Linked DNA regions of Homo sapiens. The protein of the gene in region 1 purifies or fractionates together with the protein of each later gene. This does not show direct contact. Each region holds a gene or a part of one and is shown in the gene's direction. Other genes may lie near its edges. The genes, in order: IRGC, FBXL18, PI4K2A and OMA1.

Region 1 (8,204 bases):
ACAAGACCCTCTTCTCCACCACATCCCCGCCCCCCCGCAAAAAATACCACATAGTATCTGTGAAGGACAATAAAGCTGCATGCAATAAAATGAGGTGTGCCTGAAATTGAGTTTATTATTGAACGAATGAAAGTTCTCTCTCAACTCAGGTTCTTTGCAGAGGCTGGTCCCTTAGCCTGGGATGCAACTCCCTAATGTGCCATCTGGCTCACTCCTACTCATCCTTTGGATCTCAGGTCAGGTGCCCCCTCCTCCAGGAAGCCCTCCCTGACTCCCAGGCTGAGTCGGGCTTCCTCCTTTGTGCTCCCACAGCCCTCTGGGGTCCCCCATCCCAGTGCTGCCCCCTCTGTCATCATTATCTTGGGATGGATCTGACTCCACCACTGGACTCTGAGTCCTGTGGGGGCAGAGCCTGGCTGTCTTGTCCATTGCTGCGTTTCCAGCATGCAGATAGGCAGGGTGCAACCCCTCTCTCTCTGGCTGGTGCTCTCAGGAGCTGCTAGGGGCATCCCTGGGAACATGCCAGTCTGCATCGGTGCATGTGTGCAGGTGGCAGTGGCTCTCTTTCTTGGTCCACAATCATCCTGGGCTGCAATAATCTCCATTTTCTCGGGCCTGGAGCCCCTGAAGCAGTGCCTGGGTTTGATGCATCTCTGGAGCCCTAGCTGCTGCAGCAGAATGAATGAGGTTCCTGAATGGAGTCAGTGGGTTTCGGGGTTTCTGTATATGTTGTCAGTGTGTAACTGTGTCTCTTAAAGTCTGCACATCTGTGTCCCGGAATGTGTGTGTTTGCGAGGCTTTGGTAAGTGTGTGTTTGTCTGAGTCTTGCTTTCCTTCAGTGACTCTGTTGTTTTGTTTCGTTTAGAGACAGAATCTTGCTCAGTCACCCAGGCTGGAGTGCAGTAGCATGATCACGGCTCACTGCAGCCTTGAACTCCTGGGCTCAAGCAATCCTCCCACCTCAGCCTCCTGAGTAGCTGGGACTACAGATGTGCACCATCATACCTGGCTCATTTTTTTTTTTTTTTTAAGAGATAGGGTCTTGGCCAGGCACGGTGGCTCACGCCTGTAATCCCAGCACTTTGGGAGTCCGAGGTGGGCGGATCACGAGGTCAGGAGATCGAGACCATCCTGGCTAACACGGTGAAACCCCGTCTCTACTAAAAAATACAAAAAAATTTAGCCAGGCGCGGTGGCAGGCGCCTGTAGTCCCAGCTACTCGGGAGGCTGAGGCAGGAGAATGGCAGGAACCCGGGAGGCGGAGCTTGCAGTGAGCCGAGATTGCACCACTGCACTCCAGCGTGGGAGACAGAGCGAGACTCCGTCTCAAAAAAAAAAAAAAAAAAAAGAGATAGGGTCTTGCTATGTTGCCCAGGCTGGTCTCAACCTCCTGGGCTCAAGCAAACCTCCTACCTCGGCCTCCCAAATTGCTGAGATTACAGGCGTGAGTGAGCCGCCATGCCCAGCCACGAAGTAACTCTGTATTTGAGGCTCTTTCTGTGTCTTTCCCTTCTCTCTTGGGCCAGGGGTGCGTGTCCATGCATTTTGGGAAGGAGTCCTTGCTGTCTGCTGGTCTGTGTGCTCGGTGTCCGGGGAAGTCTGAGAACCATGTTGTTCACTCTCTTCAGCTCTGTGTGTTTGTGTCAGTCAGTGAGAGCATGAGTGAGTCGTGTGTCTTTTGCCCTGCACCTCCCTTTCACCTGTGGCTTAAGAACTCTGTACTATGCGGCCAACAGCCCACTCTTCCCCAGCTCTCAGGGTGGCTCTGAGCTAGTCTATTCCCCTTCTGGGCCTCTCTCTCCTTAGTTGTTCTCAGAGGCTCCTTTCCAGAACTGGCCTGCAGATGGTCAGGAAAATCCTCTGAGTAGCGTTATTGTAAATTCCCTACAAGAGGAGAATGGAGAAGGCCCTGTGGAGCCTGGCCTGGGCAGAGAGGAAGCCCGGAGGGGAGACAGGACAGAGACACTTATAAAGGACAAGAAGGGGCCGGGTGTAGTGGCTACACCTGTAATCTTAGCGCTTTGGGAGGCGGCATAACCTGAGGTCAGGAGGTTTGGGAGGCGAGGCAGGCGGATAACCTGAGGTCAGGAGTTCAAGACCAGCCTAGGCAACATGGTGAAACCCCACCTCTACTAAAAAAAAAAAAAAAAAAAAAAAATTAGCCAAGCCTGGTGGTGCATGCTAGTAGTCCCAGCTACTCAGGAGGCTGAAGCAGGAGAATCACTTGAACCCAGGAGGCGGAGGTTGCAGTGAGCCAAGATTGTGTCACTGCACTCCAGCCTGGGTGACAGAGCAAGACACTGTTTCAAAAAAAGAAAAAAAAGAAATCAATGACTAAATTATTGGGCTTACAAGATAGCAGATCAGCCTCCCGAGTAGCTGGGACTACATGCATGCACCACATCTGGCTAATTTTTGTATTTTTAGTAGAGATGGAGTTTCACCACATTGCCCAGGCTGATCTCAAACTCCTGGCCTCAAGTGATGCACTCGCCTCGGCCTCCCAAAGTGCTGGCATTACAGGCGTGAGCCACTGTGCCCACCAGCAATGACCGAATTTGTATCATCAACTTTCACACTTCTCTGGGGAACTGACAGTCCCCTGGGTGGAGGGTGGAGTGGTAGCAGGGCCAAGCCCTTGGAAACCAATCTGTGAATCTGAGACTTTGTCCTTGGGGGGTGATGGAGACCATGGAGGATTTTGAACAGGTCTTGGTGTTAGAAAGATCTCTCTGGAGTCTTCAGGGGAACTGGAGGGCCCAGTGTGAGTGGGTGGTGACCCCATGAGCAGCTGGGGCTTGGGGTCCCTGCTCCACCTCCGGGCCCCACCCCCTGACATCACTGTCGCATTATTGCACCAGGTCTGGCTGACCAATAAGCTGCTGCTTGCTATGATAATGGGTCCTAGCAACGGTGTCTGACCTTGGCTAAGAGGGAAGGAGATCCTATCAGTGGGGAGAGTGTGAGGGGAGAGGGAGAGCCTGCAGGGCAGGTGAGTCCCCCAGGGCTCTCTCGCTGGGCCCCTGTGCGTGGGCGGAGCAGGAGCTTATGGTCTAATCCGGACCCCCTCAGCCCAAATTCCAACCACTGACTTGTCTGCCCCTTGCTGCCAGGACCTGTTCCAGGTTCCTACTCTTCCCACCGCAGACCATACTAGGGAGAGGGCACACCCAGGATAGGAGGCTCAGATCTGGAGGCAACAATGTCTTTTTTTTTTCCTTTTTTTTTTTCTGAGACGGAGTCTCGCTCTGTCGCCCAGGCTGGAGTGCAGTGGTGCAATCTTGGCTCACTGCAACCTCCGCCTCCTGGGTTCAAGAGCTGGGACTACAGGCATGCGCCACAACACCTGGCTAATTTTTGTATTTTTAGTGGAGATGGAGTTTCACCATGTTGGCCAGGCTGGTCTCGAACTCCTGACCTCAAGTGATCCACCCACCTCGGCCTCCCAAAGTGCTAGGATTACAGGCGTGAGCCACCATGCCCAGCCGGGAACAATGTCTTAAGGACATATTTCTGTGGGGGGTGGAGTGGGGTAGCAGAGGATGGGGTGAGTGGTAGGAGGTGAAGAGACGGGGTGCAGGGGGCAAGGAGACAATGCAGGAGGCAGGGACATGCAGCTGAAGGGAGAGTAGCTCTCTAGGTGGGTGAAGGAGCCTGGGGACCTGGGTTGGGGTCCTGGCTATGCCTCTGGATGAGGAGACCTCATTTGTCTTGTCTGAGCCTCAGTCCTTCTCCCTGTCAAATGGGGACAGTGATCCCAGACATGAGCAGCTCTCCCAGGGCACCCTGAAGACCCTTAGTGAGTAAATGTATTTTAGAGATGATGGGCCAGAGGAGGGTGAGTGGGAAGAGGGAGGACCAGGGAAGCTCCTGGTGAGGAGGAGGGATCTGAGGGGGGACCATCACGACAGGAGCTCTGGGCGGTGGGAGGGGAACTGAACCCCGGGAGGCAAGGGCTGCCATGGCAGGGGTGGGGTTTCATGGAAATGACTCCTGGTGTCCAGGTGGTCCCCATGTCTGGCTTCCCGAACCCAAGGGCGTCTGAACCCAAAGTCAGCCTAGGGCTAGCTGAACGGGGTTTGTGGGCATCACAGCAGCCCTGCGAGGTGGGGAGGAGTATCCCCCACGGGGCAGCTGAGGCTCAGACAGGGCGAGGACTTGCTCAAAGTCACACAGCTAAGAATATTACTAATGATAAGAATAATGACGATGATGGTGATGCCAATGACACGAGGCACCTGCCCTGAGCCAGGCGCCGTTTTATGGGCTGCTTTATGTCATAACTCATTCAAGTCACAGAGATCCTAGGAGGTGGTTTGCCAGGATTGTAGGTATCATTCTCAGTGTTCAGATGAGGAGAGTGAGGAGAGAGTTAAGTAACTTGCCTCACATCACTCAGTAAGTATGTGGTGGAGCCAGGATTTGATCCCAGGCAGTCTGGCTCCGGGTCTGGGTCCCCTCCACCCTACCCTCCAATCCCAGCCACCGCAGGAGTGCAGCTGTTTCCTCTGAATGGGCCTGTACCACCCTTTCCTATGCAGCCCTGGCTATGTAATTTGCCCTGGCTATATAATTTGCAAGGCCCAGTACGAAATGAAAATATGGGGCCCCTGGTTCAAATATTATAAAGAATTTCAGGCCAGGCATAGTGGCTCATGCCCTTAATCCCAGCGCTCTGGGAAGCTGAGGCAGGAGGACCTTGATCTCGGAAGTTCAAGACCAGCTGGGACAACATAGTGAGACTCCCATCTCTACAAAAAATTTAAAAAGTAGCTGGGCATGGTGGCATGCGCCTGTGGTCCCAGCTGTTCAGGAGGCTGAGGTGGGAGGATTGCTAGAGCCAAGGAGATCAAGGCTGCAATGAGCCATGATCGTAGCACTGTGCTCCAGCCTCGATGACAGAGAGACCCTGTCTCAAACAAACAAACAAACAAACAAACAATTTCAGCTAGTGTCAGCAGAGCATTAAACCAAGCACTGGGCCATTCTAAGCACAGAACCCTCCAGGGCACACATACACCCAGAAAACTGACCTGTGCCTAGGTTACCCTGGAGACTCCAATAGTGCTCCAAGAGGCTGCTTGGTGGTCATGCCCATTACCCAGAGAGGTGCTTCATTTTGCCCCTGGTCACACAGCAAGTTAGTGGCAGAAAAGGGATGTGAACCTGGGCCTGCCAGACCCCAAAGCCCTCTAACTTGTGCCAAAAATGTGTCCCCAATTCTTGAAGGAAAAAGAGAGCTGTGGGCTTCCAGGGCGACTCCCTTCACATCCGTGGTATCTGTCTCTCCCTGCCCCATGCCAAGGCCCAGGAGGTGTGAATGGCTCCCTTCTCCTCTGCAGGCGCTGAGGATCACGCATCCTGTGACTCTCCCCTGTCCCCCGCCACCCTCTGAACCACTGGCCACCATGGCTACTTCAAAGTTGCCCGTGGTGCCTGGGGAGGAGGAAAACACCATCCTTATGGCCAAGGAAAGGCTGGAGGCCCTGCGCACAGCCTTTGAGTCGGGTGACCTCCCCCAGGCCGCCTCTCACCTCCAGGAGCTGCTGGCCTCCACGGAAAGCATCCGCCTGGAGGTGGGCGTCACGGGCGAGTCGGGCGCGGGCAAGTCCTCCCTCATCAATGCCCTGCGTGGCCTGGAGGCCGAGGACCCTGGCGCGGCTCTCACGGGCGTCATGGAGACCACGATGCAACCGTCGCCCTATCCACACCCACAGTTCCCTGACGTGACCCTCTGGGACCTGCCAGGAGCCGGCTCTCCAGGCTGCCCGGCTGACAAGTACCTAAAGCAGGTAGACTTCAGCCGCTATGACTTCTTCCTGCTGGTCTCCCCCCGCCGCTGCGGGGCCGTCGAGACCCGCCTGGCCGCTGAGATCCTGTGCCAGGGCAAGAAGTTCTACTTTGTGCGCACCAAGGTGGACGAGGACCTGGCGGCCACGCGCACCCAGCGGCCGTCGGGCTTCAGAGAGGCCGCTGTCCTGCAGGAGATCCGAGACCACTGTGCCGAGCGGCTGCGGGAGGCCGGCGTGGCTGACCCTCGCATCTTCCTGGTGTCCAACCTCTCGCCGGCCCGCTACGACTTTCCCACGCTGGTGTCCACCTGGGAGCACGACCTGCCCTCCCACCGGCGCCACGCTGGCCTGCTGTCGCTCCCCGACATCTCGCTGGAGGCCTTGCAGAAGAAGAAGGCCATGCTTCAAGAGCAAGTCCTCAAGACCGCCCTGGTGTTGGGCGTCATCCAGGCCCTGCCGGTCCCAGGGCTGGCGGCCGCCTACGATGATGCGTTGCTCATCCACTCACTGCGTGGCTACCACCGCAGCTTTGGTCTGGACGACGACTCGCTGGCCAAGCTGGCCGAGCAGGTGGGCAAACAGGCAGGTGACCTGCGCTCGGTCATCCGCTCCCCACTGGCCAACGAGGTCTCGCCTGAGACTGTCCTGCGGCTCTATTCCCAGTCGTCCGACGGCGCCATGCGGGTGGCCCGCGCCTTTGAGAGGGGCATCCCTGTGTTTGGGACGCTGGTGGCTGGCGGCATCAGCTTTGGCGCTGTCTACACCATGCTCCAGGGCTGCCTCAACGAGATGGCTGAGGACGCCCAGCGTGTCCGCATCAAGGCCCTGGAGGATGACGAGCCGCAGCCGGAGGTCAGCTTGGAAGTGGCCAGTGACAATGGCGTGGAAAAGGGGGGCTCCGGGGAGGGAGGTGGGGAGGAAGCCCCACTCTCAACCTGCAGGAAGCTCGGCCTCCTTCTTAAGTACATTCTGGACAGCTGGAAGAAACACGACTCAGAAGAGAAATAAAGAGTGCAGCCCCGCCCCCCTGCCTCACCCACAAACTAAGTCTTAACAAAATCCAAATTACCAACAAAAAAGGCCGATGTGGTGAATGTGAGGGCTGCAGTTGCCTGGGGGGTGGGTGTGGAGGGAGCCTGTGTCCCTGGCAGGCAGGGGAGCCGGCGTCCTGGGCAGGGCAAAGGAGGGGGCACTGGGGAGGGGAGGAGGGAGGCAGGTGGGCCCAGGGCCAACAGGGGTGTAGTGAAAGGGGACAGGAGTGCCCTGGAGAGGGAGGTTGGAGACATGGATGGTGGGCCCAGGGTTCCCTGGTGGTGTCTTTCTCCCTGGTCCCCAAGTGGCCAGGAGGAATTTGTGGGGCACAGGACAGCAGGGCCAAGACAGGAGATTGCATCCTGCTAAGGTGCTTTCTATTTTATTTTATTTTATTATTATTATTTTTTGAGATGGAATCTTGCTCTGTCACCCAGGCTGGAGTGCAGTGGCCCGATCTCGGCTCATTGCAGCTTCTGCCTCCCAGGTTCAAGCAATTCTCCTGCCTCAGCCTCCTAAGTAGCTGGGATTATAGGTGAGCACCACCAAGCCCAGCTAATTTTTTTTTTTTTTTCGAGACTCAGAGCCCAGGCTAGAGTGCTGTGGCACAATCTTGGCTCATTGCAACCTCCACCTCCCGAGTTCAAGCAATTCTCCTGCCTCAGCCTCCCAAGTAGCTGGGATTACAGGCACACGCCAACACGTCCAGCTAATTTTTGTATTTTTGGTAGAGAGGGGGTTTCACCATGTTGGCCAGGCTGGTCTTGAACTCCTGACCTTGGCCTCTCAAAGTGCTGGGATTACAGGCGTGAGCCACTGCACCTGGCCCCTGCTAAGGTACTTTAGTTTCAATCTCATGTCCGTGTCTGAGAACCCAGTGTACCAAAGACAGCCCCAGGGGCCTGGGATGAGCACAGTGGTGTCCAGCAATGGCTAAACAGGTTGGGGAGAGTGGGCATCCGTGCCTGCCTGCTGCCTGGGAGCCATGGAGGGGTAGGGGGTGGCAGGGAGAGGGAGGCCAGGCGGCCACAGGGCTCACCTCCGTGTGGTGCTTGAGAAGACAGAGAATGGCATGGTGAGAGAGTGACTGGATGTTTCCATGAACATCGGAGGAGAGAGGAGGCCGACGATGCAACTCCGTGGCCTAGCATGAGTCTTACTCCAGAAGGAGGGCGGGTGTGTCTCAGAGCAGGAAGGCACATGGTGTTGAGACATCTGGCGTGTCTGTGATTGGGAAGAATCCTGGTCTCTCCATGATTAAAAAAAATTTTTTTTAGAGACAGGGTCTTGCCCTGTCGCCCAGGCTGGAGTGCAGTGGCGTGATCACAGCTCTCTTCAGCCTTGACTTCTTGATTTTGATGCTGTGAGTCTAAGATTGTG
Region 2 (5,252 bases), on another chromosome or scaffold:
TGCCACCGTCCTGGGTGCCGTGCCCCAGGCGGCGTGCTGTGGGAGCCTAGGAAGCTTTAGACGTGCCAGGCCCGCTGCCTGACCAGTCACTCCCGTGGGCCTGCCACATCCTGAACACCTGTGACAGGTGACTTCCTCCGGGGCGGAAGAATGTGGATGTGGTTATCTCGTGGAAAAAAGGTTTTTTTTCCACGCTCTGCAGACTTGGTTTTTAACCCCAGAGGCTCGGGGCGATCTGGGGCGGGTAGCACGGAGCCGCATCGCCACCTAGTGACCACACGACGGCACCGTCCTTGCCCAACGCCCCGTTTCCATCTCCTGCTGTCTGGAGCCTCCTGCTTTTGCTTTGGAGAGAAATCCAGAGGTGACTTTGCAGCTCAGCAGGTGCGGCGCCTGCACCGTCTTTTTTACCCCTTCCCGTTTCCCACCTTCCGGTCTGCAAAGGGTTGTTTACTTTAGGATTTTTTTAGGGAGAGGTGGTATTTAAAATATACGTAATGAAAACATTTTATTACTATCTTTAAATAAAAACAATCTGAATAGCTTAACAAAACAAATATAGAAAAATAAAGACAATTTGGATGTTTTATTTTATTATTTATTTAATTTTATTTATTTATTTTTTTGTGTGAGACAGAGTCTCGCTCTGTCACCTAGGCTGGAGTGCAGTGGTGTGATCTCAGCTCACTGCATCCTCTGCCTCCAAGCAATTCTCCTGCCTTCGCCTCCCCAGTAGCTGGGATAATGGGCATGCCCCGCCACGCCCAGCTAATTTTTTTTTTTTTTTTTGAGATGGAGTTTCACTCTTGTTGCCCAGGCTGGAGTGCAATGGTGCCATCTTGGCTCACCGCAACCTCTGCCTCCCAGGTAGAAACGATTTTCCTGCCTCAGCCTCCCGAGTAGCTGGGATTACAGGTGTGTGCCACCACGACCAGCTAATTTTGTATTTTTAGTAGAGATGGGGTTTTTCCATGTTGGTCAGGCTGGTCTCAAACTCCCGATTTCAGGTGATCTGCCCTCTTCGGCCTCCCAAAGTGCTGGGATTACAGGCATGAGCCACCGTGCCCGGCCTGCCTGGCTAATTTTTGTATTTTTAGTAGTGACAGGGTTTTGCCATGTTGGCCAGTGTCGAACTCCTGACCTCAGGTGATCCGCCTGCCTCAGCCTCCCAAGGTGCTGGGATTATAGACGTGAGCCACCGCACCTGGCTGAGAATTTCTGCTTAAATCAATTAAAAGAAAATTAACTACCAGGCATGGTGGCTCACGCCTATAATCCTAGCACTTTGGGAGGCTGAGGCAGGAGGATTGCTTGAGCTCAGGAGTTGGAGACCAGCCTGGGCAACATAGTGAGACCCCTGTCTCCACACACACACACGCACGCACGCACGCACGCACACACACACAAAAGTAAATAACCAGTCTCTCATGAGCCACACTTCCTTTATTCTTTTAAAAAAAAAATTTTGGCCAGGTGCAGTGGCCCACGCCTGTAATCCCAGCACTTTGGGAGGCTGAGGCGGGTGGAGCAAGTGGTCAGGAGATTGAGACCATCCTGGCTAACACGGTGAAACCCCATCTCTACTAAAAATACAAAAAATTAGCTGGGTGCGGTGGCAGGCGCCTGTAGTCCCAGCTACTCGGGAGGCTGAGGCAGGAGAATGGCGTGAACCCGGGAGCTTGCAATGAGCTGAGATCACGCCACTGCACTCCAGCCTGGGCAACAGATCGAGACTGTCTTGCTCTGTCATCCAGCTTGGAGTGCAGTGGCACGATCCTAGCTCACTGCAGCCTCGAAGTCCTGGGCTCAAGCGATCCTCCCACCTCAGCTTCCCGAGTAGCTGGGAGTACAGGTGCGTGCCACCATGGCTGGATAATTTTTGTACTTTTTGTAGAGCTGGGCTCTCACTATGTCGCCCAGGCTCTTCTCAAACTCCTGGGCTCAAGTGATCCTCCTGCCTTGGCCTCCTGAAGGGCTGGGATTATAAGTGTGAGCCACCATGCCCGCCGTGACTTGGTCTTTTTGTGTCACCTACCAGGGAAGAATCTCCATGCCTGTGGCGCCTTCTGCTGTGGCTGCCCTCAGCATCTGTGCTAGGATCCTGGGGCTGCCAGGACAATTGATCACAAACTGAGTGGCTTCATGCAACAGGCATTTATTGTCTCACGATTCTGGAGCCCAGAGGCCCCAAATCAGGCTATGGGCAGGGATGGTTCATTCCTTCTGAGGATGGTGAGGAGGAACTCGGGCGCCTGCCAGCCACGCCTGGCACTGCTTGGCTGGTGGACACGTGGCCCCAGTCTCTGCCTCTGTTGTGACCTGGCCGCCTTCTGTCTGTGTCTGGGTATCTCTGTGCCTTCACCTGGCCTTATAAGGAACCAGTCATTAGATTTAGAGTCCCCATCATGCAGGATGCATCCTCCTCTTAACTCCCTTGCATCCGCAACAAACCTGCCTCCAAATAAGGCCACACCCTCAGGTCCCAAGGTGAGGACTCCTGCATAGTGTGTGTGTGGGGGGGCGTCGCAGCTCAGTCCACACTAGCCCCTCCCCATTCGCCTCAGCCCGTCCCTCCAGCGGCTCCTCCCCCCACCCCGGGAGTTCCTGGCAGCCCCTGAAGTCACGTGAGTTCCCCTCCAGCCTCTCTGCTCCCTCTTGATTCTTATCTCAGGGGCTCGCTGCACCCCACAACCTGCCACAGTCCAGGTCTTGCCCAGTCCCACAGCCTGGTTCTCCAAGGGCCCCCCGGGCCTGTCCTCAGCAGCGCCACATCCCCACATCTGCCACTGTACTTCGAGACATGGCCTGTCCTTCTGCTTTCTGTCTGCATGGACAGACTCCCCAGGAAGGATCTAGAATGTCGTCCCCTACTTCCCTTTCCCAAGTCCTCCCCTTTCCCCTGGGTTCTCCCGTCTTGGTCTCTGTCACTGTAGCCTTGGTGCGGACTTGGGCCTCCCCCCTGCCCTGGCTGCCAACCTCTTAGCTTGGCCCCACTCCCCTCGGCCTCCTCCTTTGGCCCTGCAGCCATCCAGCGCTGTCCTCCCATCTGTCGTGGCTGAAGTGGCCCCCATCTGGCTGAAGTTCCTGCCCACCTTACCCCCTGCCTCCCAGATTCTCGCCCTCTCCCTCCCCCACACCAGCCTCCCGGATTACCGCCCTCTCTCATGGTGTTCAGTCCTTATCTGCCTCCCTGTCCAGCTGAGCTTCCCAAGGGCAGGGGCCATGTGTGGGGTCCTCTTTGCATCCGCTGCCCAGCACACCAGCGTTTGAGGAAGATAGGGTGCCTGGGGGTCATTGGGGTGCACCAGGCAGGCTGCGGACACAGATGCTGATGGCCTCGGCTGGTGACTTGAAGCCGGGCTCTGTAGACACTGGCTGGCTGCTTGCATCAGGCCCACCGGGTCGCCTCCAAATCAGATCTCCAAGGGGGACCCTGGGGGCCTGAGTCGGCACCCAGTACTCCAAGGGATAGTGGTATTGGTGGGAGGTGGCGGGAACAGCTGGGCTGGGCCCCAGGCCAGGAAGCTTCCACTGGCAGCACCTCCAGACGCCCAGCTGGCCTGGCCTGCGAGCCCCTCCCTCGGACCTCACAGCTGCCCTCTCTCCCCGCAGGCTGGAGCAGCCCTACTTCAGCGCCAACGCCCAGTTCTTCCAGGCGCTGAGCCAGTGCCCCTCGCTGCAGCGCCTGTGCCTGGTCTCTCGCAGCGGCACCCTCCAGCCCGATGCCGTGCTGGCCTTCATGGCTCGCTGCCTGCAGGTTGTCATGTGCCACCTGTTCACCGGGGAGTCCCTCGCCACCTGCAAGAGCCTGCAGCAGTCGCTTCTCCGCAGGTGAGTGATGTGGGTTGCGTACAGCTTCAGGGGCCGCAGAAATCACCAGCATCCCGTGACCTGGTCCCCAGCCTTCACCGAGTGCCTACCAGTGGTTTCTTGGAATTGACGAGCACCAGGCAGTGACAGGGTGAAAGCAAGGGGTTTGGTCTCCCACGGCCCAGCCTCTGCTCCTTGAGCATTCCCTAGCCACATGGTAAATTTTCTAGATAGTTCAAGCTCTCCTCTCCCACAAGTACAAAAGTCTTCTTCTTATTATTATTATTACTTTTGAGACGGAGTCTCACTGTGTTGCCCAGGCTGGAGTGTAGTGGCGAAATCTCGGCTCACTGCGACCTTCGCCTTCCGGGTTCAAGCGATTCTCCTGCCTTGGCTTCCTGAGTAGCTGGGATTACAGGCCTGCGCCACCAGCATGTATTTTGTATTTTAGTAAAGATAGGGTTTCACCATGTTGGTCAGGCTGGTCTCGAACTCCCGACCTCAGGTGATCCGCCTGCCTCGGCCTCCCAAAGTGCTGGGATTACAGGCATGAGCCACCGCACCCAGCCTGCAACCATCTTTAACTCTGGATTTTTCACATCTCTGCCCGTTGTTTGGATCTAGAAGCAGTGCTTACTTGGGCAGTTGTGGGTAAAGGCGGTAGATTGAACAGAGAACCTTTCCTTCTCCCTCTCCCTCGCCACCTGCTGTCAGGCCCTTTCTGGAAGGCCCACATAGTCTGGCCCCTCTTCCCTTAGCTAGCTAGCATCTCCGCTTCCCCTCGTGACAGGGCATCCTGGAGTTTGATGCTCTGCTGCTGCGCAGGAAGTCAGGTGAGCACCTAGAATTGAACACAAATTAGGAGGAGGCGATTCCTGGAGAGAGCTGGAGCTTGGTAGGCGATGTGGGGAGTGACGCATTTCAAGACCTCTCAGGAGGACGGGCTGACTGCTGGAGTGATCAGGGCTCCTGAGAGAGGCGTGCGCCCGGCCAAGGGGGCAGCAGGACATGAACGCCCTGAGTGTTCGTGTCCCTGCAGGTGGGGAGAGGTGACAGGAAGGAGGCCCCAGCTGTTCACAGAGTTGCGAGAAGAGCCATCAGCCAGGACGTCTCGAGCCACTGGGCGCCGACAACCCTGCTTGCCAGACTCTGGGGTAGTCTGTTGTCCTTGCGGTCGGCCGCTGGCTGTCTCAGGAATAATCCTGGTTGGGGTTTCCCCCTCTCTGGTTGTAAAAACAACTTGTGTTTATAGAGTACTTTTTAAAAATTTAGACTATGCATCAATCTTTTTTCTTGTTTGTTTGTTTGAGACAGAGTCTCACTCTGTCGTCCAGGCTGGAGTGCAGTGGCGGGATCTCAGCTCACTGCAACCTCTGCTTTCTGGGTTGCAACCTCAGCCTCCTGAGCAGCTGGGATTACAAGTGTGCACCACTATACCTGGC
Region 3 (7,540 bases), on another chromosome or scaffold:
CCCCCTTTTTCTGCTAACTTTATATTTCTGTTCACAGATCGAGGCAATGACAACTGGCTGATTAAATATGACTGTCCAATGGATAGTTCTAGCTCTCGGGTAAGAGACTGAGATAAATCTTAAAGAGAATGAAGAGTATTTGCATAATATAGAAACACATAAAATGGTCAGAGATGTAGTTCATACAAGTTCAGAAGAATCGGGGGGCGCATATGTTTAAAATTAATAGGTTAATATTTGGTAAAGTTTTTCTCAATATGTGTTTCAAGGACATCCTACTGACACATGTTAATAGGAATAGCATGAAGAAAGGGTCAAGTAAATTTGGAACATATTATGTACTCTGTTCTTTGAGCTTCTTATTGCACAGTAGCATAGTAAAGGTCTGAGAAGTACTACGTTAAACAAACCTATTTAAATTTGATTTCTACCCCTTTTAAACCATGAACCACTTTTCTCACAACAGACCGCAAGTCCACAGAACATAAGTTTAGAAAAAGCTGCTCCTGCAACTTTCTTTCCTTTCTCATTCCTTTCATCCTCCACCATACTTCTCTATCACTGTTCAGTCTACATGTTTTACAAAATTAGCAGAAGGCTGCCTAGGGGAGAGTGAGATTGGTTTTATTTCTTTTTTCTTTTCTTTCTTTTTTTTTTTTTTAAGAAACAGGGTTGGCCGGGCATGGTGACTCACGCCTGTAATCCCAGCACTTTGGGAGGCCGAGGTGGGAGGATCACCTGAGGTCAGGAGTTCCAGCCTGGCCGACATGGTGAAACCCCGTCTCTATTAAAATGCAAAAATTAGCCGGGCATGATGGCGGGAGCTTGTATTCCTAGCTACTCGGGAGGCTGAGACTCGAGAATGGCTTGAACCTGGGAGGCTGAGGTTGCAGTGAGCCAAGATCACACCATTGCATTCCAGCCCAGACGACAGAGCAAGACTCTGTCTCAAAAATTAAAAAAAAAAAAAAAAAAAAGAGACAGGGTCTTGCTCTGTTGCGCAGGCTGGAGTACAGTGGTGCTATCCTAGCTCACAGCAGCCTTGGACTCCTGGGCTCAAAGCAGTCCTCTCACCTCAGCCTCCTGAGTAGCTGGGACTACAGGCGCAAAAGTTGTTTAATGTTTTGTAGAGATGAGGTCTTGCTATGTTGCCCAGGGTGGGGTTTTCATTCCTTATAACTTTTTTACTTTCTCTAATAGTGGCTCTCAAATTTTGTGCCTGAATCTTCTGAAGAGTTATTTAAAATAGTACACAGATTCTTCAGGCCTTTCCCTTAGAAACTGATTCATCAGGTCTGGAGTAAAACTCAGGATTCTGCACATTTAATAAGGTATCTCAGGGGATTCAGATTCAGGCATCCTGGAACCACAGTTCTTGTTCCTGTGATGGCACCCATGAACCTGAAGCATGGAGCCACATAGTCAGTGATTGTCTCTGACATGGGCTGTCACAGGTGACATGCCCACTCTTTTTACATTCATCTCTTGTCCTTTTCCTTTTCATGCACCACTGAAGCAGGAGAACAGACTCCCTTGTGCAAGAGCAGCCAGCTGTTATCTTCCGAGGCTCTGTTTTCTCACTGGAAAATGTAGTTGTCACCAGTGAAGTAACATCTGAGTCAAGGTCCACACAAAAGGACCTTGGCCAACTGATATGGATTTTATTTCTTCTGTTCTGCTTTCAGGATTCTCATTTTCTTTCCCTAGGAGGAATGGCTTATAGTTATCTTTATTATTGTCATTTCCTTCTTACCAAGGACTGTAGCAACTCTTGGGGAAGTGTACCTTTTCTAAGATAAGAACAGGACTCTTGAACTTTGAACAAGAGCCAGGTCAGAGGCACCAAAATGTGCTAAGTTCAGATAACAACATGGAAGCCAGTTCAGAGAGTAGCTCAAGATAAGTTCAATAAGAATTCTTCTCTTGAGGGAGTTGGGATGAGTTGCTTTGCTACTAATTGGAAGGGCCTGAGGGAGATGGGTTTCCTCAGTCATTAGTCTTTCCTTGCTCTTCAGGACACAGACTGGGTGGTGGTGAAGGAGCCTGTTATCAAGGTGGCTGCCATAGACAATGGGCTGGCCTTCCCACTGAAGCATCCTGACTCCTGGAGGGCATGTAAGTCTCCAGACAATGGTGGTCTGGCTCTTCCCTTGCTCAGTATATTTTCTCACTGTGCAGTGGAGATGATAATGTCTCTATCATAGGATTATTCTAAAAATTAATGAAATAATGGAGTTCAGGCACTTTAACACAATGGCTGGCATATGGCAACTATTTCATAATGTAAGCTGTTTTTCTAATTTTTGTCTTCTATGATTCCCATTACAAGCATAAAGGTGATTAGAAATTAGAAGCATAAAGATGAGTTTTCTCATTGTCTCTTTGCATTCTTCTCGTTCTTTCTGAGGACTTTTTTTTTTTGGAAATGGAGTTTCGCTCTTGTTGCCCAGGCTAGAGTGCAATGGTGCGATCTGGGCCCACTGCAACCTCCACCTCCTGGGTTCAAGCGATTCTCCTGCCTCAACCTCCCAAGTAGCTGGGATTACAGGCATGCGCCACCACGCCCGGCTAATTTTGTATTTTTAGTAGAGACGGGGTTTCACCATGTTGGCCAGGCTGTTCTTGAACTCCTGACTTCAGGTGATCTGCCTGCCTCAGCCTCCCAAAATGCTGGGATTACAGGTGTGAGCCACTGCGCCTGGCTGAGGGCTATTTATTTTTTATTTATTTATTTTTTTTTTGAGACGGAGTCTTGCCCTGTCGCCCAGGCTGGAGTGCAGTGGCGCGATCTCGGCTCACTGCAACCTCCTCCTCCTGGGTTCACACCATTCTCCTGCCTCAGCCTCCCGAGTAGCTGGGACTACAGGCACCCGCCACCATGCCCAGCTAATTTTTGTATTTTTAGTAGAGACAGGGTTTCAGTGTGTTAGCCAAGATGATCTCAATCTCCTGACCTTGTGATCCACCCGCCTTGGCCTCCCAAAGTGCTGGGATTACAGGCATGAGCCACTGCGCCCGGCCCTTTTTTAATTTTTTAATTTGTTATTTTATTGTTTTAGTGTATATTTCCTGAAATATCTTTTTTTTTCCTGTTATCTGAGGACTGTCTTTCCATAATTTATTCTAATTGTGCCTCTAAATATAAGCTTCCTATCAGTGTTCTGTCTTCCTTGTTCCATCTCCTACCCTGTTGTAACTGAGAAGCTTCTGGAAAGGAGGAGAAATAAATGTAGGGAGTCAGTAGCCCCTTTTGCAGCATTAGTCTTCCTTTTCAGAAGGACCATCTCAGCGTCTCAGTGGCAAGTAGTTGCTTCTAGACCTTGCATCTTGGAAGGTCATGTAATGTCTGAGAATGAGCTCTGACATTAGGCAGCCCTGGGTTTGAACCCTGGTTCCTCTACTGACTAGCTGTGTAACCTTTACAGTTAAGAGCACTTGTAAGTTTTTGTTTCTGTTGTATGTCAGGGAAGAGGGGTTCTCCTTTAGAAAGTGCCTTGACTGGTGGAGGACACAGATGAGCAGGGACTTTTCCAACACCAGCTTTGCCTTTGACTTTTCCTCTTTTCAGATCCTTTTTACTGGGCCTGGTTGCCCCAGGCGAAAGTCCCATTTTCTCAGGAGATCAAAGATCTGATCCTTCCAAAGATATCGGACCCTAACTTCGTCAAGGACTTGGAAGAGGACCTATATGAACTCTTCAAGGTTAGCCCTGGGAACCTCAGCCCTATTATCATATGGGAGAAGGAATTTTTAATGGTTTTTTTAATTGGTCCTGACAAAAGCCAAGAGGAAATGGCTAACACCTTTCTGACTTGAGTTAGCCAACGAATAGCAAGATTTCCACATGTGGACAGCAGGACCTGGTTTGGATGGGTTTGAGAGAAATGGGCAGGGGTGAGAAATCACACTGATGTGTCTCTCCTGTCCATCATGTGGCTGCAATGTATCTGCAGGGCTTTCATTTTAATATGGAGCACTGGAGCCTAGAGTTTGAGATGCAGAGGAAGATATTGACTTGTTTTCTGTTTCCTCATCTGTAAAGCAGGGAGTTCTTGTGGGAGTAGTTGACTTCACAAAGCTGCAGAAGCCTTATGCAGGTTTTCCTTCTTAGAAAGTTTCTAACTGGGGGAGAAAATGGGTTCCTGTGAGGCATTCACACAGGTTCCATCTCCTTCTGGTCTTCTTTTGCAGAAAGATCCTGGTTTCGACAGGGGCCAGTTCCATAAGCAGATTGCTGTCATGCGGGGCCAGGTAAGCCTGGGACATCCTCCCAGTATCTTTGGCGTCTCTGGGAGTGTTGTGTGCTCAGGTTGAGCAAATGTTTGAAGTTTGTGTTTTATACCCCCCCCTTTTTTTTTGAGACCGAGTCTCACTCTGTCACCCAGGCTAAAGTGCAGTGGCATGATCTCTGCTCACTGCAACCTCCACCTCCCAGGTTCAAGCAATTCTTGTGCCTCAGCCTCCCAAGTAGCTAGGATTACAGGCGCATGTCACAACGCCCGGCTAATTTTTGCATTTTTAGTAGAGACAGGGTTTTACCATGTTGACCAGGCTGGTCTCGAACTCCTGACCTCAAGTGATGCACCTGCCTCTGCCTCCCAGAGTGCTGGGATTACAGGCGTGAGGCCCTGCGCCCGGCCGTGTTTTACAGCTTTTTTAAGTCCGTTGTGTACATTATTTTTGGCTGTACCTTAACACCTAGGAGAGGAAAAGTGGCCCTCCCAATTCTCCCACCTCTTCCCTGGTATCCAGTGCTTGTTGAAGCACTTAATGTGCACTCATCTCTATGCTAGTTGCTAGGTAATTCATTGGTAATTAAACTAATGCTCTCTGTCCTAGAGTTGCTCAAGGCAGGCTGTATGTTTTGGTGGTTAAGATCTGGGCCCTGGAGCCAGACTGCTTCACTACTTGGAAGCTCTGTGGCCTGGGGCAAAAGCCTCTGTTTTCTTGTTCATAAAACAGGATAGTAATAATACGTTGCACAGTTGGCTGGAGAATTTCATGAGATAATGCTTATCAAGCGTTTAGTAAAAAGAGTACTGGGCACATGAAGCACTCACATATTGATTATGGTTATAATTTTGTTGTTATAGGTGCAACTTACATTATTCCTTCTCCTTCCACTTCACCTTCAAAGGGAGCTAAGGAAACCAAGGGGATTGTTGATCTTCCAAAGCATAGTAAAGAAATGCTTGAAAAATGGTTTGAAAACTCTGTAGGGTACTGGTATTATGCCTATCACTTTGAAGTCTTCTTAAAGAGAGTTGGGATGACCTAGTGGTTAAGGGTGCAAACTGTGGTCACAGTGCCTGGGTTTTTGAAGCCTGGCTCTGCCATTTACTACCTGTGAGATTTTGGGCAAGTTACTTAATCTCTCCTTCCCTTAGTTTCCTCATGTTTAATGTGGGATCAATAATAGTAGCTGAGACCAGGCATGGTGGCTCACACTTGTAATCCCAGCACTTTGAGAGGCTTAGGTGGGCAGATCACTTGAGCTAAGGAGTTGGAGACCAGCCTGGGCAACATGGTGAAACCCCATCTCTACAAAAAACACAAAAATTAGCCATGTGTGGTGGCGCACGCCTGTAATCCCAGCTACTCAGGAGGCTGAGGTGGAAGGATTGCTTGGGCCTGGGAGGTCTAGGATGCAGTGAGCTGAGATGGCACCACTGCACTCCAGTCTAGGGGACAGAGTGAGAACCTGTCTCAAGATAATAATAATGGTACCCACCTTACAGAATTATTATGAGATAAATGATTTGAAACAGTTAGAGTAGTACCTGGTATACTAAAATACTCAATTTGTAGTATTAATAGCTGTTAGGATTATGATTTTTGTATACAGAAAATTCAGCTTCTCCCATCTTTAAAGGGCAAGAGGATCTTCTCAGCCTTAATTCTGCATTTACTTCTTCCTGCCATTTATCTAAAGACCTCTGATGACAGCACCTCCTGGGTTTGCTGAGCCCATTTTTCCCTGGAAGGGGGTTGGACAGAGGTTTTTTTTTTCTTTTGAGACAGAGTCTCACTCTGTCACCCAGGCTGGAGTGCAGTGGTGCGATCTTGGCTCACTGCAACCTTCACCTCCCAGGTTCAAGTGATTCTCCTGCCTCAGCCTCCCAAGTAGCTGGGATTACAGGTGCATGGCACCACACCTGGCTAATTTTTGTATTTTTAGTAGAGATGGGGTTTCACCATGTTGGCCAGGGTGGTCTCAAACTCCTGATCTCAGGTGATCTGCCTGCCTCGGCCTCCCAAAGTGCTGGGATTACAGGAGTGAGCCACTGAGCCCGGCCTGGACAGAGGTTTTAAGAACTACAATTATTGTAGCTGTCTGAATACCAGTAACATGGTATTCCTACATTTCCCAAGTAATGTAAGGGCCCAATTAGGCTGGCAGAATTTTTGGAAGCATTAAAAGCCATGTGATAGACTCAGATGTTATGGAACTCAGCATAAAGGAGTAAACTGGCTTCTCCAGTTGATATAGGCTGTGCCTCTGTCCGTATTGCAATGTCTTATCTAATTCCATCCCAGCTCAGTCCCTTGCCAACCCTTCTCCCATTACTCAGATAGTGCCATTATTCAGGATGGTAGGGAGGTTGGGGTAGTGCAGTTTTATTTATCTCCATCTTGTGCTCCTAATGTCTTCAGAGGAGCTTTTGGTATCTTGTAACCTAAAGTGCCTACTACCTTAGGGTGACCATCCAGCTCCTTCCAACATGTACATGGCCAGTATATCACTCATGTGCTTACTTGTCTACCATTCACACATCAAAGCAAAATGTGTGCACTACAAAATTTCTGCACTACAGAAATCTGACAAAGCACAGAGAAAAGAGGTCATAACCCTGTCTACATAGCTGAGCCATTATTGCAGGATGGGCTGTAGTACAAGGGCCCTGAGATGTAGGGAAAGAGTGAAGAGGCCCCACAGGGACACAGTCAGGTGATAGAAGTTGTTACTCAACTTAAAGGCTTCTCACCGGGAGTTAAAGAATCTAGGGTCTGAGAGAAAGCCTCTGTAACATTTTCTTTTTCTTTTCTTTTTTTTAAAGACAGGGTCATGCTCTGTCACCTAGGCTGGAGTGCAGTGGCCCAATTGTAGACCACTGCAGCTTTGAACTCCTAGGTTCAAGAAGTCCTCCCCCCTCAGCCTCCTGAGTAGCTGGGACCACAGGCATGCACCACCATTTCTGGGTAATTTTTTTTAAGAGGTGGGGTCTCGCTATGTTGCCCAGGCTGGTCTCAAACTCCTGGCCTCAAGCGATCCTCCTGCCTTGGCCTCCCAAGGTGCTGAAATTATAGGCATGTGCCACCACATCCAGCCCAACATTTTCAAAGATAGTATTTATTCTTTAGTATTATGTGACTGCTATAATTTTTCTTCAAATTTAAAAAATAATTTTTCTTTTTAAATTCTTTATTCTCCTTTCTTTTCAGTCCTGGTTCCAGGCTTATCTTCAGCTTTTTAATTTGGAAATTTTCAAACCTCAGTAAAGTTGAAAGAATGGGATCTTCTAGATTCTTCAGTTGTTAT
Region 4 (7,540 bases), on another chromosome or scaffold:
ATCACCTTGGGTGGTATGGATATTTTAACGATATTAAGTCTTACAATCCATGAACATGGGATGTCTTTCCATTTATTTGAGTTGTCTTTAATTTCTTTCATCAGTTTTTTTTTAGATACTTTTTAGTGTAGAAGGCTTTCACCTCCTTAGTTTGGTTTAATAAGTATTTTATTCTTTTTAATTTTCCTGTAAGTGGAATTGTTTCTTAATTTCCTGTTTGGATAGTTTGTTGTTAGTGTGTAGAACATAACTGACTTTTGTATGCTGATTTTTGTATACTAACTTTACTGAATTTATTTATTAGTTCTAGCAGGGTTTTTTTTTGTGTGTGTGGAGTCTTTAGTTTTCTACTTATAAGATCATATCATCTGCAAATCATTTTACTTCTTTCTTTCTGATTTAAATGCCTTTTATTTCTTTCTCTTGCCTCATTGCCCTGGCTAGGACTCCCAGTGCTGTATTGAAGAGAAGTGGCAAGATTGGTCATTCTTGCCTTGTTCCTAGACTTAGAGGAAAAAATTTTTGTTTTTCACCATGAAGTGTGATGCTAGTTGTGGGCTTTTCATATATAGCTATAATTATGTCGAGATAATTTTTTTCTATTTCTAGTGTTTGAGAGTTTTTATTATGAAAGGATGTTTAATTTTGTCAAGTGCTTTTTCTGCATCTATTGAGATGATCATGTGTTTTTTTATTCTGTTAATGTGGTATATCACATTAATTGATTTTTGTGTGTTGAACCATTCTTGATTACCAGGAAGAAATCCTCCTTGGTCATGAGGTGTGATCCTTTTAATATGATCTTGAATTTGGCTTGCTAGTATTTTGTTAAGAATTTTTGTATTTATGTTCATCAGGGATATTGGCCCGTAATTTTTTTTTGTAGTGTCTTTGGCATAGGTATCAGGGTAATGGCTGGCCTCATAAAATGAGTTTGGAAGTGTTTTCTCCTCCTCAATTTTTTGGAAGACTTTGAGAGTCATTGACATTAATTCTTTAAATGTTTTTGGTGGCATTCACCAGTGAGGTCATCTGGTTCTGGGCTTTTCTTTGTTGGGAGGTTTTTTATAATTGACTCAATCTCATTAGTTATAGATTTGTTCATATTTCCTATTTCTTTTTCAGTCTTAGTGGGTTGTATATTTCTTGGAGTTTATCCATTTCTTCTAGGTTATCCAGTTTGTGGGCATATAATTGTTCAGAGTAGTCTCTTATGATCCTTTGTATGGTATCAGTTACAATGGTATGCTGTAATGTGTCCTCTTTTGTTTCTGATTTTGTTCACTTAAGTCTTTTTTTTTCTTACTCTAACGACTTGTCAGTTTTGTAAATCTTTCCCCAAAAAGCTCTTAGTTTTAATTTTTTTCTATTTTTTTATTCTCTGTTTTCTTTATTTATGCTCTAATCTTTATTATTTCCCTCCTTCTGTAAACTTTGGGCTTAGTCCTTTTTTTTTTTTCTTTTTTGGTAGATCTTACAGGTATAAAGTTAGTTTATTTGCTTGCTTTCTTCTTTTTTTTTTTAATGTAGGTGTTTATCATTATAAACCATCCTCTTAGAACTGCCTTTGCTGTATCCCATCAGTTTTGTTATATTGTGTTTTCATTTTCATTTGTCTCAAAATCATTTTCTTTTTGGTTTTTTTTTCCTTGACCCATAGGCTGTTCAGGAGTATGTTGTTTAGGAGTGTGCTTCAGAATTTCTGTTTAGTACTTTTTTACATTTTCTGTGTCTTTGTTGAAATTCTCACTTTGTTCGTACATTGTTCTGACCTCTTTGAGTGTCTTTATGATGGTTATTTTGAATTCTCTTGTTAGATAAGTAATATATTTCTCTTTCATTAGGGTCAGTTTCTGAAGATTTATCTTCATCCTTTGGTACATATTTCTCTGTTTATTTTTTTCACTCTTATTGTTGATATCTACACATTAGGAAAAAACAGCAACCTCTTAGCCTTTACAGACTGTCTTTGTACAGGAGAAGATCTTCACCAGTCAGCACAGCAGAGATTCCCAGAACCTCTCAAACCTTCATGCTAGTCCAAAGTGCTGTCTTTGTTCTTAGTGGTGCCTAGGTGTCTAGGGTCCTGTCTGGTCCATCTGGTCCATATGCTGGGTCCTATCAGTGCTACAAGACAGATGAGACAGAAGCCAGTCCCTTGGACAGCCCTCAGAAATGTTAGAATGTTGGACACGTGATCTACCTCTTTCCCGAGCCCTGCCCCAGGAGAAGCTGGGCTCTGGAGTTTCTCTCCAACTCATTTCATGCTGAGCTTCAGGGAGTGGTCATGGCAACTGCTTGTGTGCTTGTTCAAACTTCTGTCACATTATCACTGGCCCCTAGATATCTAGGGCGTTTTAGATTCCATCAGTGCTACAAGGCTGGCAAGACAGAAGCCAGTTCCTAGGGCAGCTCTTAGAAAAGTTGGAATGTTAGATACACAAGCCAAGTTTTTCCTTCCCCAAGGAGTGGTGGGGAGCTGCAGGTGTTCTTATGATCATATGGTGCTGTATTGGGGGTACATAATTGCTCTCGCAGATTATGGCAAGAGGGTGTCTCCAGTCTTCTACCAGGTTTGATGTTGTTCATTTCGTACTTGTGCAGGTGCAGAAGCATTGCACCTAGTTTCAGGATTTCTCACAAAGGGAATTCGTATATTATCGTTGAATCAGTGTGTTCATGTGGGGAAGGAGGGTTTAGGGCGTCCTATTCTTCCATCTTGCTGATGTCAACCTGTTACTTATTTTTCCTAAATTGGAAAAATGTAAATAAAATACTCATTTTGGAAACAAAATTATCTGACTTTAGTGGCTCTTTGAACTGGGTTTGAGAAGTACAGACAAACTCAACACTCTTATCTTAACATTAAAGTAGATATCTCAAGTCCCCTTTTAATACTTTTAGCTTGGAATACTTTCTAGTCTGTAGGGATAATTAATTTCTTTTTCTATTTCTGCATATCAAATATTGCTTTAAAGATTCCCTTCAGCTGTGTTACTTAGAGATTGAATAGGGAAATATTTTGTCTTTTGATTAACAGTTTTAGGCTAAAAAAATTAGATAAGTATGCCTTTGGTTTGTGTAGCAGACAAACTTCATGTTAGATAATTCGTGAATTTGTAGTCCATTCAAATGTTTATCTTCCAGTTTTCAGAGGGGTTTTTTGTTTGTGTTAGAATTCTTTCAAGTCATTTTATATTTTTATGAATTATTTGAGAAGAATACTTGTTAATCTCAGCCTGTATTTTTATTGTGAATGTGATTACCTATTATTGAGGGGCATAGTCCTCTGGGTGTTTCTAATTCAGCATCAAATAATTATTTCTTTATAGATACATATGTTACATACATATTTTACACATAAGCACACACACATCTTGCATATATAGATATGTATTTATATGTGTATAAACATGAATAATATTTATGTTTGTTATATACATTTATCTTGTATATTCCTGTTTATATACATATAAACATGTATATCCATATCTGTGCAGTAGTGTATAAAGTACCTTGAATTCTTTTCAACTTAGAATACTCAGAGGTCTTAAGGAATTATATTTCTTTAAATATTGAATAAGATTTACTTGAATTTAAAATTTTTTATTTTGCTAACATTTGGAAATGCTTTAATGGTATTTGTTAAGAAATGATGTAGCATGGTTGTTGACTAGCATGCAGTGTTCTATTAATATATTTGCCTTTTGGGGTTTCACAATTACACTATTATAAATCTTTTTGAGAGTACATTTTAGTCAGTATAGTATATATATTTTTTCTTAGTTTTAATCAAAAATAAAATCATTGGGAAATATAACCACTTGTTTTCCAGTTACTTATTATAGAAAGAATAAGTTAAGAAATGTGAATAAATTGAACAAATTAATAAAATATTTGTTAATAATCCACCTTATGGAGGATTTAAAAATAATTTTAATTATAAAATAATGTATTTTAATATAGTTCAGAAATAAAAGTGTTGCTCCCTCTCCACTATCAGATACCTCAGGTACATTCTTAGGGTAGTTAACAGCTTCTTAAATAGCTTCTCAGATATGTTCTGTGCATATACAAGTATATACGTATGAGTATGTATATGAGTGTATGATGGAATTGTACATACACAAGATCTACATATATTCTTTTAAAAAGTACTAATGTACTTTTATATTGTACTTTTATAAGGTATTGTGTTTTATAAGGTATATGAATTAAATATATTGTCCATATACATTGAGAAAATTGGGTAAATTGATGTGCATAATAAACATGTCATCTCTTTATGTTTATTTGAAGTTTTTTTCTGATTGTTCTAGTGGCATAGAAGTAAAGTTTCTTTAATACAGTTTAATAACATTATATTTTAAAACTTTATGAAAACAGAATTTTTAATTTGTGTAAAAGATTTTACCCTTAATACATGTTCTTAATATCCATCATACTGAAAATAGTGGGCTATCTTTGGTTAGCAGGGTTATTGTGAATGTTGTATATGGGAAGGGCAGGCATTCTGTTATTTCAGTACTGTGATACCATGTTGTTTGAGGTGGGTCTTTTTCTAAGCAATGGGCATGTTCTACTTTTATTAAAGTGATGATAGAAAATGACTTTAAAGCATGTAGTGACATAAAGTTGTTAGGAGATATAACTAATGCTAAATGACGAGTTAATGGGTACAGCACACCAACATGGCACATGTATACGTATGTAACAAACCTGCACGTTGTGCACATGTACCCTAAAACTTAAAGTATAATTATAATAGAATTAAAAAAAAATAAAGTAGTAGTTTTTAAAAAATCCTCAAAACTGAGCTCATTGTGTGGTTTTACTAATTTTGGTTTTAGGCTTGTGCAGACATAAGAGCCAGTTCAGTGTTTTGGCAGCAAATGGAGTTCGTTGATAGCCTGCATGGCCAACCCAAGATGCCAGAATGGTTATCTACACACCCTTCTCATGGCAATCGAGTTGAGTACTTGGATAGACTTATACCTCAGGTGAGCTGACACCGTAGAAGGCGGGACATTATTTTTACTGTATCATTTATTTTTAATGCTGTCACTTCTTTTGCTTAGTAAAAGAGAGTTCTAGCCTATTAACTATTTTGATTACTATAATTATGGATTATCAGTTGTCACAGAATTTGACTGAAAAGCAAAATTCTGCTTGTCCACAAGTCTTGGAGAATAAATTACTATGTACAGTTGACTTTTCTTAATAGTGAAGGTTTAACTCCTTTAGTATGAGACTTTAATTTTAACTGACTTGATGAAAGTTTAAAACTCAAGGCATATTAAGTTTTTTAAACATGTTGATGATAATTTAATCTTTCCTTGGTGATTTAAGCTTTTTGTTAAAAATACCAGTTAATGAGTTGTACAGAAGTTTTGGGTCAAGTGGATATTAATTGTAGTAGTGGTACTGGAATTTGTTTTTTTAGGAAAAAAAATCTTCATGTTTGTTTCTGGTTATTTATTTCTTTATGAAGATAAGAGTGAAGCATTTGCTCTCTGGCTTTTCTTTCTGTAGAATTCATAAGTGGGTCAAGCTGAGGCGGCTTTCTGCCAAGTAGTTTTCAGTATCCTCTGAAAATCTTTTGATTTGTTGACATCATTCAGAATGTTTTTATGGTTTCCATATCAGGACAAAATGGATGTTAGGCATCTCTGAGCCACGTTACACGCTCTCTTCTATCTCACTTGTATTAAATTTGGTGGCTTGTTATGAAAGCGGAACATTTTTTAGCAATTTAAGAATTGGTACTGGGCCATGTGCTAAGGCATAGCACAACAGATCCAGGTGTATTATAGAAGTATCTTTCTCATGCCTGTTATCCCAGCATTTTGGGAGGCTGAGGTGGGTGGATCACCTGAGGTCAGGAGTTCGAGACCAGCCTGGCCAACGGGGTGAAACCCTGTCTCTACTGAAAATACAAAATTAGGCGGGCGTGGTGGCATGCGCCTGTAATCCCAGCTACTCGGGAGATTGAGGCAGGGGAATCGCTTGAACCCTGGAGGCAGAAGTTGTAGTGAGCCGAGATCGTGCCACTGCACTCTAGTCAGCGACAGGGTGAGACTCTGTCTCAAAAAAAAAAAAGAAGTATCTTTCAGTATGACTTCAAATTCAGCCCAACAAATACGGAGTACCTCTTAAAAGAAAGAAATGATGCTAGATGTGGGGGATACAAAGAGGAATAAGATATGGTTCTTGATATTTACAGGATGCTAAGATAAATAAAAAATGATTATTAGTACAAGGATATGATTTATCATAAGAAAAATAAAAACGGTATGCAGTTTGAAGGAAGATGAATCTGCTTCTAGTTTGGGATAAGAAACTCTAGTGCAAGATTTATTCATTCATTAGGTAGATCGATATTTATTGATACTTATTGATTAATCTACTATTCTGTGTTCTATTGCTGGGGAATGAGCAAGGAACAAAACAGTCTGTTTTCTTGGAGTTAACATTCTAGTTAGGTAATGCAAATAAGAAACAAACATATAGTATGCCAAGCAATAATAAGTACCTTGGGAAAAAATAAAGCAGATTAAAGGTATTAGAGAGGGGTGGGCAGCAGAGAAGGGGTACTAGTCTATGTTCGGTTGTCAAGGAAGGCCTCACTAATCAGAATCCGGAAGGAAGCACGGGAGCAAGTCCTTTAGCTGTGTGGAGGGAGAGAGAGCCTTTTAGGCTGAGGAAGCAGCTGATGCAGAGAACCTAAAGTCAGCGTATGTTTGATGTGTTCAAGGAATAGCAAGGAAGACATTGGGGCTGAATGGAGTAAGGGAAGGGAAGAACAGTTCAAGATGAGGTGAAAGGGGACCAGACCACGCAGGATCTTCTAAGCCATTGTAAGGACTTGACTTTCACTTCAAGTGATAGGAGAAGCTAGTTGAGGATATTGAGCAGAGGAGTGACTTGATTTGACTCATGTTTTATTGTGATCACTGGCATTATTGTGTGGAGTAGACTAGTGGGGCAACGGTGGAGTCAGGGAGACTTTTTAGGAGACTCTCATAATCCTGGTAGGAGATGATGGTGGCTTGGACCAAGATATCTGGTAGCAGAAAATGGGGAAAGAATCAGTCAGATTCTGGATATATTTTGAAAGGAGTGATGACAGGATTTGTTGGTAATTTAGGCATACTTCGTGCCTTTTGTGAGCATTGAGGACAGCCAAGCATGGCTTCTTAACACCTATTTTAGTTTGTTCAGGTTGCAATAATAAAAATACCATAGACTGGGTGGCTTATAAACAACAGAAACTTACTTCTCACAGTTTGGAAGGCTGTGAAATCTTAGATCCAATTTCCAACAGATTTGGTGTCTGGTGAGGGCCCACTTCCCAGCTCATAAACAGCCATCTTCTCCTTGTAACCTCACATGGTAGAAGGGGCAAGGGAGCTCTCAAAAGCCTCTTTTATAAAAGGGTGCTAACCCATTCATGAGGGCTCCACCCTTATGACAATCGCCTCCCAAAGGCGCTTACCTCCTGATACCATCACATTGGGAGTTGGAATTTCAACATATAAAT

Evidence for each region.
Region 2: the proteins of IRGC (region 1) and FBXL18 purify together in Homo sapiens (affinity purification with mass spectrometry; 2 studies listed by BioGRID and IntAct, with this or other methods). This does not show direct contact.
Region 3: the proteins of IRGC (region 1) and PI4K2A purify together in Homo sapiens (affinity purification with mass spectrometry; 2 studies listed by BioGRID and IntAct, with this or other methods). This does not show direct contact.
Region 4: the proteins of IRGC (region 1) and OMA1 purify together in Homo sapiens (affinity purification with mass spectrometry; 2 studies listed by BioGRID and IntAct, with this or other methods). This does not show direct contact.

Annotation. Positions count from the first base shown.
Region 1 is NC_000019.10:43,713,151-43,721,354, forward strand, and holds IRGC (interferon-inducible GTPase 5), read left to right. Parts: upstream 1-2,925; 5' UTR 2,926-2,992; intron 2,993-3,726; exon of another isoform or gene 3,727-3,799; intron 3,800-5,229; exon of another isoform or gene 5,230-5,297; coding exon of another isoform or gene 5,298-5,408; coding exon 5,409-6,800; 3' UTR 6,801-6,871; downstream 6,872-8,204. UniProt on the Homo sapiens protein: Required for sperm motility and therefore male fertility, via positive regulation of spermatozoa fibrous sheath formation.
Region 2 is NC_000007.14:5,489,810-5,495,061, reverse strand, and holds part of FBXL18 (F-box/LRR-repeat protein 18), read left to right. Parts: intron 1-3,612; coding exon 3,613-3,831; intron 3,832-4,600; coding exon of another isoform or gene 4,601-4,655; exon of another isoform or gene 4,656-4,849; coding exon of another isoform or gene 4,850-5,252. UniProt on the Homo sapiens protein: Substrate-recognition component of the SCF (SKP1-CUL1-F-box protein)-type E3 ubiquitin ligase complex.
Region 3 is NC_000010.11:97,662,870-97,670,409, forward strand, and holds part of PI4K2A (phosphatidylinositol 4-kinase type 2-alpha), read left to right. Parts: intron 1-37; coding exon 38-99; intron 100-2,015; coding exon 2,016-2,115; intron 2,116-3,568; coding exon 3,569-3,702; intron 3,703-4,191; coding exon 4,192-4,251; intron 4,252-7,540. UniProt on the Homo sapiens protein: Membrane-bound phosphatidylinositol-4 kinase (PI4-kinase) that catalyzes the phosphorylation of phosphatidylinositol (PI) to phosphatidylinositol 4-phosphate (PI4P), a lipid that plays important roles in endocytosis, Golgi function, protein sorting and membrane trafficking and is required for prolonged survival of neurons.
Region 4 is NC_000001.11:58,503,520-58,511,059, reverse strand, and holds part of OMA1 (metalloendopeptidase OMA1, mitochondrial precursor), read left to right. Parts: intron 1-4,850; coding exon 4,851-5,000; intron 5,001-7,540. UniProt on the Homo sapiens protein: Metalloprotease that is part of the quality control system in the inner membrane of mitochondria. Activated in response to various mitochondrial stress, leading to the proteolytic cleavage of target proteins, such as OPA1, UQCC3 and DELE1.